2 separate regions of the Homo sapiens genome follow, and region 1 is linked to region 2. Evidence: fine-mapped QTL for protein levels in blood plasma. A gene starts in region 2. The other region holds a variant in brackets. All regions are shown on one strand. Distances are from middle to middle. Region 1 overlaps TREM1 (triggering receptor expressed on myeloid cells 1). Region 2 holds the start of TREM1 (triggering receptor expressed on myeloid cells 1).

Region 1 (5,314 bases), 13 kb before region 2:
ACACCTGGTTCCATCATCATCATCTCCCATCATAACATTTATTAAGCACTTATTAGGCCCTAAATACTGAGCCAAGGGCTTTCCATACATCCACTGTTTAATTCTTAAGACAACCCTCTGATACCTGTGAGTCGGTTCCATTTACAGTGAGGAAACTGAGCCTAATAGAGGTTAGAAACCTTACTCAAGGTCACATACATAGAGTGTGGCTGAGACAGGATTTGCCCCAGCCCTGTCTGATTCCAGAACTCTTGTCTTCTTCTCCACATTCCCTTCTGTGCCCTGCTAGAGTGACTTCCACAGAAGTTTTGTTTTCATGTTACTGCCTGTCTTTTTGCTGTTATTTACCTTTTGCTCTACTAACGCCTCCTCTGCACAGTGAGTGAATGCTTTTTTAAGGGGAGACTCTGTCTCGCTTTTCTTTACATCTCCCAGGATATCAGCACAGTGCTGGGGGATTGCTCTGCTGAATCCACCTAATTCTCTCAACTTCAAGATGCAGTAGAGGGACCTCCAGCTTCTGTTTCATCGCCCAGTCCCTCCTGGGTCAGGCTGGACAAGCACCGTCTGCATGCATTGCCTCCTTTCCCTTTCCCATTTGTACCACATTACCTGATCCCATTCCAGTCCATCCCAAAGATATAAGAGGAAACTCCCATTAGTGGGCACTTCTGCTGGGCTGTCTACATCCCTCTCCCTGGTCCCCTCTTCCCCAGCCTGCTTACCCACTCTCCTTACCTGCAGCAGCAGGAGCAGCAGCAGCAGCAGCCAGGGCCACCCTCAGAGCCCTGCCCCCTCCACTCTATCTGCCACCCAGATGTGCTGTCTGCCGGCTGGCCCAGGGCCTCTTGTAGTTGCTGCAGGATGTTGCCCCACATACGCGGTCACCATCTCCCCACGAGGCTGGGTGGCTACTTTACAATTGACAAACCTTGGGGGAAGTGTGACTCGGGGAACAGCTCAGGAAGATGCAGAAAAAGAGAGGCAGGCTGGCCACCCTTGTGACAGCTTCTTTCCTGCCATCATGATGTCACAGTCCTGATGGGAACACTCAGTTGCTTCCCTTTCTGCACCATGGTGAGTCTAGACCCACCCACCTGATGTCCCCACTGCGTCACTCACCCCTTCAGGCCACCAACCTCCTCATCACTGACCACTGACCCCTACAACCCGCAAGCCTGCACCCCAGTCTCCCTGTGAAATGGTGCTGCGCAAACAAACATTGTTCATCCCCCAAGGCCGGGTTCAAGCCTTTCTGCTACATCCTCCCTCTTTAATATCACCCCGCACCATGGTTCCCAAGGACAGGCACGTGGCTTCACTCAGGAAGTGTGGCAGACATACACACCCAGGCTCCACCACCAGATATTCTGACTTGGCAGATCTGGGAAGGGACCCAGGAATCTGTATTTTAGCAACAGCTTAGGTGGTTCTGAGGCAAGGAGTCCAAGTTGACCATGTCTGCAAGAGCTGCATATAGGTAAGATGGACCCTGCAGCATGTCTCGGTGACTCAGGGGCTTTGCCTGAGTACCAGGTATGGGCTTCCCTGAGCTAACCTGTCCAGGCACAGGCATGGAGACCCCAGTTATAACAGTAATAGCAGTAACCACCATGGATTGAAGTCCTACTGTGTGTCAGGTGCTTTACTCAGGCGTCTCCTTGGATCCTGTCAACATTGGGAGATGGTATAATGGAGGTGTGTCATCTTTTGACTCTCCAGTACCAAACACCTTTTTCTTTTGGGGGCACAGGCCCCAATGTGTGAGTTTCACCAGATGCAGAGTTCTGCTTCCCCTTCTATTGAGGATGGAAGCAGCTATTCCTCCCACCCTTCTCCCGGCAGCTGTGCTGCAGGCACGTGACTTGACCTAAGCCTGGCCACATGCATGATTCTGCCCAGGACCCCAGATCTGCGGATGAGGCTCAAATGCAGGGCCAGTTGCAGATTACTTACTCAGAGGCAATTTAAGGATTCAGAGTCTAGGAATAGCATGGTGGCCTCCAGTATCCAGGGCAGTGGCATTGATGGCAACATGTCCAGACTGTCTCATGTGGCCTCTGCTGTCCATTCTCTCTTGGCTTCTGCCCATTTTCTAAACCCAATCCCCCAGCCTCTCATCAACTCTGAGTTACTGATATCCCCCTAGAATTCCCTTGCTGTTTTAGATAGCCAGAGTTGGATTCTGTTGTTAGCATCCAAAATCATCACTGGCATGGTTAGGCACTATCATGCCCATTAAGGCAAGGAGGAATATTGAAGCCCAGAAGGTTAACTGAGTCACCCAGGATCAGACACCCTGCAAGGATGCAGAGCTAGATTCAAACCCATACATGGTTTTCCTCCAAGACCTGTGTCGTTAGCCACACAACACTATTGTATCAGTCAAGATAACAGCAAGACACCGCTGGCTCATTGAAACTGGGTAATTGAGGAGCATTTAATAAACATGTGCATAGAATTTAGGGAATCCAGTAAGGGGTGCTTCAGTATGCTGAGGCTGGCAATAGTGGTGGGTCATTCCCACTGCTGGGCCTACAGAGGAGAGGATGGAACAGGTGGCTGGACTTGGAGATGGGAGCTGTTTGCTGAGAGGCTTGAAGGAGCCTTCAGAGGGGAATGCAGCCACTCCTGCCACCACCTGCCAGGGAGGGAGCCCTGAGGACAGAAACCCTGATCTGACTGTCTCCCCACCCTCGGCTCTCCTCTCATGCTTCCCATTGGCTCAACCAGCCAGAAGCTGGCAGCCAGGGAGCCTGCTGGTTTAGCCACATTGGTCAGGTTCCCAGGCAGGATGGGGAGGATGGAGCATGGCGTGGCCTGTAAGTGCAAATGGGAGAGTATCCAGCACGGCCATTTGTCTTCCGATTTAGTGCATATAATATTTCAGTCACGTTTAATATGTTGGACTTAAATAACACTTGATCTATAATAAGTTAAGCACACAAGCATGCACTGGACCATGCAGTGGGTTATGTCTGGATGAATCTGTATGAATGTGTCATGGGCTTTGGTAAGGAGTGTAATGACTTTTTGGAAACAAGCTTGAGATCCACTAAGAGGGAGCTGTATACTAGTATACAGTAGGTCTGCAGGGGCCCTGGACTCATAAAGCATTTGCTTTATGCTCCAGGAGAATCTGATGCGGTGGCCTAAAGACCTCTGAAAAACATTGCCCTCATGTGTTCTGCCTCTCCTAGAGTGTATTTAATGATAATACCCCCTTGCCCTGGTCACTTTGTCAACTTCATAAACAGGAACAATGCTGGGATTGCTAAAGTGTGGGGTTCCAGACCAGCAAGCTCAGCATTATTATAAACACTGCATCCTGTACAGTCACTGCCTCTGAGCTGCTTGGTTCTTTTAGGTAGGAAAATAAATGCACCAAGATTAACAGCTTCTGGATCTAGTGCGTCTGCAAAGATTCTCACCAGAGCATCAGGATGAAATAAATGCCCACCACACACCTTCTAATGGGCTCAAAATTGCGGTTCAGAAATCATCTCTCTAGGGTCATTACCATTACCTGGGCAGGTTCTGACAGAGCAGCATTTAGGGGAATGGGGAAGTCCTTATGCGATGGAGCAGTCTGGAAGCTGGACCTCCCCGTGCAGGGAACTTTTTCCACAGAAGTGGTGCTCATTGTAAAAATACATTTACCTAACATGAGACACACGGTATGTGTGGAAAAGTATGATTGCTCTTGGGAACTGAGGATAATATCTGCCCTGGGCATCACTAAATTGGGCTGGAAGGACCCACCATCCTTTCCCCACCCATGAGGCCCATTTCCCTTTAAAGCTCAAAGTAGGAAATAACAAAATCCTGATTGAAATCTGTGGGAGATTGCAAGACAATCTCCCACAGAGATTGTCTCTGTGGTGGCCTGAACACCTACCTGCTTCACCGGGGAGGGCACTGGAGAGAGCATGGAAACTGAGGCAGGTGTTCCAGGAGCAGACTGAGAGAAGAGGAGGAGGGCAGAGTGGGGAACTAGGCAAGCACATGGGGACAGCCTCCAGAAGCCTCCCAGGGGGAGAGCTTTTACTCCACCATCCCTGACCCTTGTGTGATACAGGAAAAGAGGCATTTAGACACAGGCGGAACTCCTGGTTATTCTATTCTATATGGTTTTGGGGTCCTTCAGGTAAGGAGCGCTTCAGTTTTCACTCCTGCCAGTGGGCAGTGGCTTATTCATGTGGCCTCGTTCTAGTCACATACATTTCTGCCTTCACGGGGCTATTTTCAGGATCCAGCGATAAATGCACACAGGATGTCTGACATGGTCTGTTGTTGCTCTCCTATGGATCCCATCTCGGCCTGCCAGTATTTCCCCAGAAGAAGATACTCAGTTTAACTCTTTTCTCTGAGAAGGATGCACTTTCTCACCACGATGTCTTATTTCTCCAGGTTCCACAATCTTCAACACCCTTTTCTGGGAGTGTTGGAAAGAACCACACATAAGCATGAAACCCAAGTGTCTGATGCTAGAAAGAGGAAGTCCCAGCATGGGGCGAGCAGGATGCTTCTGTAGTGGGAGCTCTGTCCAGGTCAGGCCAAAATTGTATGGTCCAGGGCAAAACTGAGCAGGAGAAGTATCAGGTGTGCCTTCTGCATGTCACAGCCCCCACAAGAGAATTACGGTGAAAAGCATTGAGCTGTCTGTATTTCATGCCAACCCCAAGTGGCTGGTGGAATGAAGGACCAAGCATGTTTGGGGCTGTAACTTCTTTTCTGAGGCACAAATGCCCACCCAAGATTATTAGAGGAACGAGGGCAGTGGGCAGGAAGGTGAGACGCTGACTTTAGAAATAGCCGGTGATTACAGATTTAATTCATGTTATTAACTCCCTGCCTTTTACCTCCTCCCTCCTCCCTTGGCACAACTGCCAGATGGATGTGGCTGGAAGTCAGAGGACATTCTCGTGGGTTCGTGGGCCTAGGGTACAAATGACCTCAGCGTGACAGCAAACAGGACAGAGAAGACCAGGCTCTTACTCAGGAATCCACCAGCCAGGAGAATGACAATGTTGAACACCGGAACCCTGCGGGAGACAAGAGGCTGAA[C/T]GCTACTGCTGGCAAAGTCTCTCCCACACGCACATGTTCCCTCTAGAAAATGCCTTCATGTCCCACTCTCCTCTGCTTAGATCCTTGCTCCACCTTTCCCGCACTGCCTGACCCTGTGCTTTTCAGTCTGTCTCATTGCCAAAAACTACTGATTAGAAACAATTCAGTGGAGAGTATAGGTCCCTGTCCAGGAGAGGCACTGGAGGGAGACAGTCGGGCTGATCAGCCCATCCTCCTCCCTGTGATG
Region 2 (5,382 bases):
GAGCACCAAATAACAGGCTAGACAGTGCTGCTGGGTCTACTGTGTGGGTCACGGTAACACTAGTACTGCTGTTATTAATACCACACACTTAGGTCCTTGCAGGCCTGGTGAAAAATGACAAGTGCTTACCCTTTCATGGAGCCCCCTGGCATGCCCACCCCAGGATAGGCCAACAGATCTGCCTGACCTTAGGAAGACTCAACTCAGGGACTCACAAGGAGTTTAAAGGTGAAATCAGTCTTGAAAGCCAGTTCTTCTGGGAGCAGACTCCAGTTTCTAGGGAAACCTCGGAAACAGACCTCTTGGGCAACTCCCACACACTCCAGTCAGGAATGTGCCTCCAAGAGACTGTTGACCAGAGGCTGAGTGTTGTCTGAAACCAAGCCTGGTTCCCTCATTTGTTCACTCACTCATCAGACTGGCTGGGAGACTTCTCTATCATAGGCACTGTGCTGGGCTCTTTGGAAGACACACAGACTCCATCCTCAAGTTGCCACCACTGAAGCCCTAACCTCTGAAGTTAATGTTACAGATAAATCTCTTTTATTTGCCAGCTCCCCAGGGAAGGTGGGAGTTACAGGTGACTGAGTTTGCAAACTTGCCTGTCTCTCACAGAAGGAAGGAGACAATAAGAAATGAAGGCTGCTGAGCTGTCTGTGCACAATTGCAAGAAGGGAATTCCTTTGAATATGTTAATTAAAAGGGTAGCAAATACTACCTATTAAGTATTATGTGCTAAGGGTTTTTAAAGACTATCTTATTTAATCTTTATAAAGTAAAAAGTTGACACCATTATTCTCCCCATTTTATAGATAAGGAAACTGAGGCACAGACAGATTAAGTGATTTGCCCAAAGTCTCACCATAGTTAAGTACTAGAGCCAGGATTCAAACCCAAGGACTCTGGTTCCACCTAAAGCACTGAGCTACATGGTCCAACACAGTCTGATAGGGATTAGAGAAGTCCTGGCCCAAGTGTGAATAAGTATCCAGTTGCAAGGAGCATTGAGGTTAACCCCTAACCTATCCCCACAGGGCACAATGAAATATATACCACTGGTTTTCTCTCACACAGGTACATAACCTTCAGCCCTCTGCCATCTCCCAGTTCTCCTTCAGAAAAACATGAATCAAACACAAGGAAATGCACTTGTCCATGAGGAGCTAACTCCCTTCTGCCCATCTAGATTATCACCCCAGCTCCAAGAAGACCCAGAGCAATGTCTGAGCACAGGCTCTTCAAGGCAGTTGTCCATGACTTTGCTCAAAGTAGAGAGCCCAGGAGGATACCTCTCCCTGATTTTTCATGCCTTCCCAAGGCAAGCCTCGCTTTTAACTCATATTGACACTTTCCTCCTGTTATTCATAAGGATTAGGAGGAGGAGTGAATAAAGCCCGCATGCTTCTGGTTTGGGTGCAGATGTGAGCTGTGCGGATCGTAAGAGGAGACACAAGAAAGAGCTGGGGCATGCGCCGGCTCTGCTGAGCCTCAGCAACTGTGCCCTCCAACCCCAGCGTGCCATGGAGAGCTGGGATGATCACCTCCACCAAAATGAGCACCAGCCTCTTCTGGTCACGTCTGTGTCCTCAGCAGTAGTATATTTGCTGTCCCATAGTAGACCCCTGGGAAATATTTGTTAAATCAATTCTGTCTTTTGGGTTTAACAGATTGTCAACATCAAACACATCATGATGGAATATAAGAAAAAAATTTCAACATCAAATAAACTTATTGTAGATCATGCCATGATGAGATCTACTCTATCATTATTCCCATACTAGGCTTTGCATGTCTCTAACAACATCGACATGCACAGACATCTTTTTTCCCTGACTCTCTCCTTCTTTTACTTTTGTGTGCAGACACTGCATGTTCTCCCAATTCTGGGTAGAGCAGCACGGTCTGCCATAACTACTGGTTGGCTCTATCTTGGATGGCCCTGTGCTCTGAAGCTTCAACAGAAAAGGGCTCCCCGAGATCCTGGACCAAACGCCTCCCCTGCTCAGTCCTCTTCCTTGTCTTACCTGAGACAAAGAGCATCCACAGCAGCCCCCAGAGCCTGGTCTTCCTCATCCTTCCTGTGCACCAGCTCCAACTGCTGCTGAGGGCTCCCGGGACAGCTACAAGGCACCACAATGACCTAGAGGCTTCGGAAAGTTGCACAACAGGATATGAGGCCATTCCTGGGAGTCACTGAGTTTGGGTTCTGTTTCATCACCAGTTGCTCTGACTCCTGACATCAACACAATAATACAGAGACCAAGACTCACTTCTCAGTTAAGTTTCTTTGAACTCCAGTTTTCCTTTCTGTGGTAATAATGACAATTACCTTTCAACCTTACAAAATCTAAGGGAGAATGATACTTGAATGTAAATCAAAGTAAGGCATTCATATTAGGAAGGGGAACAGAGGGCCCTTTGCTCTCCAGAGGCCCCCTCTCCATTCACATCCAGTTTAGTGTAGTGAAGAGAGTCAGGCCCACATAGGGAGAGGCTGCGACAATCGTATCTCATCTTCAGGGTTTTTGTGAGAACATGTTGCTTCATCCTGCCCTGCTCAGCCCCGTGGGTTCTCTTGGCTTCTGGTGACCTGGGGTGCACCTCCTCTTCATCACCAGGAGGGCCACACCCTGCATTTGTCCTTCAGCATTGCCACAGACATGGCCTGGGAGCTCACGGGGGTGTAGGGACCCCAGAAACAATTTGAGAGGACACTGCCACCACCCAACAAGAACAGACTTAGATTTAAAAAGGAAACTTGGTTCAAGACGCTGAAGCAAGAAGAAAAAATCCAGCAGGTTTTGTACTAGAAGCAAGAAAAGACAGATTTGACAGTGTGAAAATCAAATCAATAATGGAGAGGATTCACTTCAGAAATATTCCCAAATGTGAAATGAATAAAGACATTTAGAAGAGCTCAGAAATTTAAGGGAGGACAAATCACAGAATTCCAATCTACAAATCAGAGATGTCCTTAAAGCATAAAATGGAATGGTGGATCACAAGCAAGATTAAAAATTTTATCTTAAAAAATATGCTTTCCAGGTCTGAGAAGAAATCTAAAATTGGAGGTTGAGAGTTCAACATGGGCAAGGAAAAAATTCACAAAGTGAGACCTAGAATAGGAAGTTTCCAGGTGAAAATTTTTAAATTTAAATAAAAAGATTCCTACTGCTAAATAAACAAAAAAATAACTTGGTTTCTTCAAAGGAATTGAAATAATCAGGACTCAGATTTCTTCTCTGAGTAACAAATACCATGAGAGAGTGGGATGAGGTATAAAGAACATTATGACCCTAATATTTTACACCCAAATTGATTGCTACTCAAGTATAGGAACAGCTAAAAGGTACTATCATGTCTGTAAATTAAAACAAACAACAACCAAAAAAATTTTCAAGGCTAACTTTAATTTTTTTTATTAAAGCTGTTCAATGCAGCAATTTATAAAATATAGAAAATAATACATAAACTTAAATCATGTTATTACACTTTATAGAGATCATTTGTAGTGGAGATTTTACTATGTTTATTTTTTGTTCTACAAATAATGTCGGAAAACAGGCTTCAAACATGCTTGAACTGAAATCTGCTGGCCCCTCCTTTTGCTGTACTCAAGCAGTCCCTAAAGAGGAAAAATAGACAGAAAGCTCTTGACATTTTCTGACTCAGAGAGGAGCCTACGTGACTTCTGTGGCGATGAGTCAAATTAATAAAGTTTATTTCAGTGAATAAATCCCCTCCTTACAACAAAATTAATATTCCACACTTAAATAATAGCTATTTCACATACTTTCTACATTTTTGTGTCTTCATATACTTTGTGTGGAGGATTAAGCTCCTGGAAGATTAAGAGGGAGCTTTGAACTAAACAGTCCAAGAAGAATTTTTAATTAGACTTGAATATCACTGGAGGCTGATTGCTCCTTCACATTTTCCTAACTACGGACAGCACCTGCATTTAAATTAGAATGAAGTAGAATGAGGTCTTTCTCCACTTGTCTGATCTATTTGTGTACTTGAGGTCAACAGTGCAAATAGTCACGTGTCACTTAATGACAGATACATTCTGAGAAATGTGTTGCTAGGTGATTTTGTGTTGCAGGAACATCATGGAGTGCACTTACACGAACTTAACATGGCACAGCCTACTGTACACCTAGGCTGTATGGTATAGCCTATTAATATTAGGAAGGGGAACAGAGGGCCCTTTGCTCTCCGGAGGCCCCCTCTCCATTCACATCCAGTTTAGACAAATACCTTTCAACCTCACAAAATCTAAGGGAGAATGATACTTGAACATAAATCAAAGTAAAGCATATTCCTAGGCTGCAAGCCTGCACAGTATGTTACAGTCCTCAATACTGTAGGCATTTGTAACACAATAGTAAGTATTTGTGTATCTAAACATAGAAGAGGCATAGTAACAATACGGTATTATGACATTATAATCTTATGGGACCTCCACCATATATGCAGTCTGTCATGGACCAAAACTTCCTTGTGCAGCACATGGCAGCATTCTCTAATCCTTACCACTTTATTTTTCTGAGGAGTTTAATGACCCGATCAGTAACTTCTTCAGGCTGAATAGGCAGGACGATATTCCTGCCTAACTATTAGGGTCTCTTTAAATTCTCAAGCTACTGCTCCCAACAAGATATTATTTCTTAAGGCTTCTCATAGAAGAGCACTGTCATTTGTGACCTATGGTTCCTGTTAATTTTACTAAGGCTGGGTCACATGTCCCATTTCCATGCTTGCTCATAGGGTGGCCTCTAGCACTAGGAAGATTTAGTCTTTGGGTACCATGAACCTTTCCATATTTGCCAAACTTCATCTTCAGAGCTATTATGAAATCAATACAGTTTCAACATTGATACAATTAATGAAATAATACCAATATTATTCTGTTTTGTTTTGTCTTCAATAAGTCACTGCCCCAAGTCAGTAGGTCTCGATCTTCACTATGGGGTAAATTAGCAGTTTCTTCCTTAATAAAGATTGGTTAATCTAACCTAGCTAGAATATATGTGTAACATTTTTTAACAATGAGATTGCATATAAAATATCTTCTTTTCTGGCTCAGAGGAGGGGCCCACATGGAACTGGAACACAGATCTCTGAGGATAGTGTGACCCTGGTGCTGATATCTCTGAGGAGGCCCAATGAGACTACTTCTGAGAGTGGGGAAAACTGCAAACTGGAACCAGTCACTGTTGCCCGTGAAAAGCATCACTGAGGCTACTCACAATGAAAGAGAATGAAATAGGAATCAGTGAGCATGTCCTGTCTTCCTCCTCCAGCCTCCCAATCTCCCTCTAATGCCCCTATCGAGAGTCCAGCAGGGAACCAGCCAGCAAAGACAAAGCGAGTTTCAGA

What was found. A credible set is the group of variants that fine-mapping cannot tell apart. PIP is the chance, under the fine-mapping model, that this variant and not a neighbour inherited with it causes the effect. Protein levels are from the aptamer-based SomaScan assay of Sun 2018.
Region 1: its variant is the best candidate, but not a certain one, in a credible set for the plasma level of the TREM1 protein (Sun 2018, PIP 0.84).

What each region holds. Positions count from the first base shown.
Region 1 is chr6:41,271,186-41,276,499 of GRCh38, forward strand. It overlaps TREM1 (triggering receptor expressed on myeloid cells 1), which reads right to left. Exons shown (of 4, transcript NM_018643.5): 4 at 2,420-5,045. The coding sequence ends at 4,940. Among named protein-coding and RNA genes, the nearest start is that of TREM1, 13 kb to the right of the region's middle. The variant C/T (reference allele first, on the strand shown) is at 5,068.
Region 2 is chr6:41,284,583-41,289,964 of GRCh38, forward strand. It overlaps TREM1 (triggering receptor expressed on myeloid cells 1), which reads right to left and starts at 2,100. Exons shown (of 4, transcript NM_018643.5): 1 at 2,025-2,100. The coding sequence starts at 2,073. RefSeq lists a silencer at 4,085-4,174.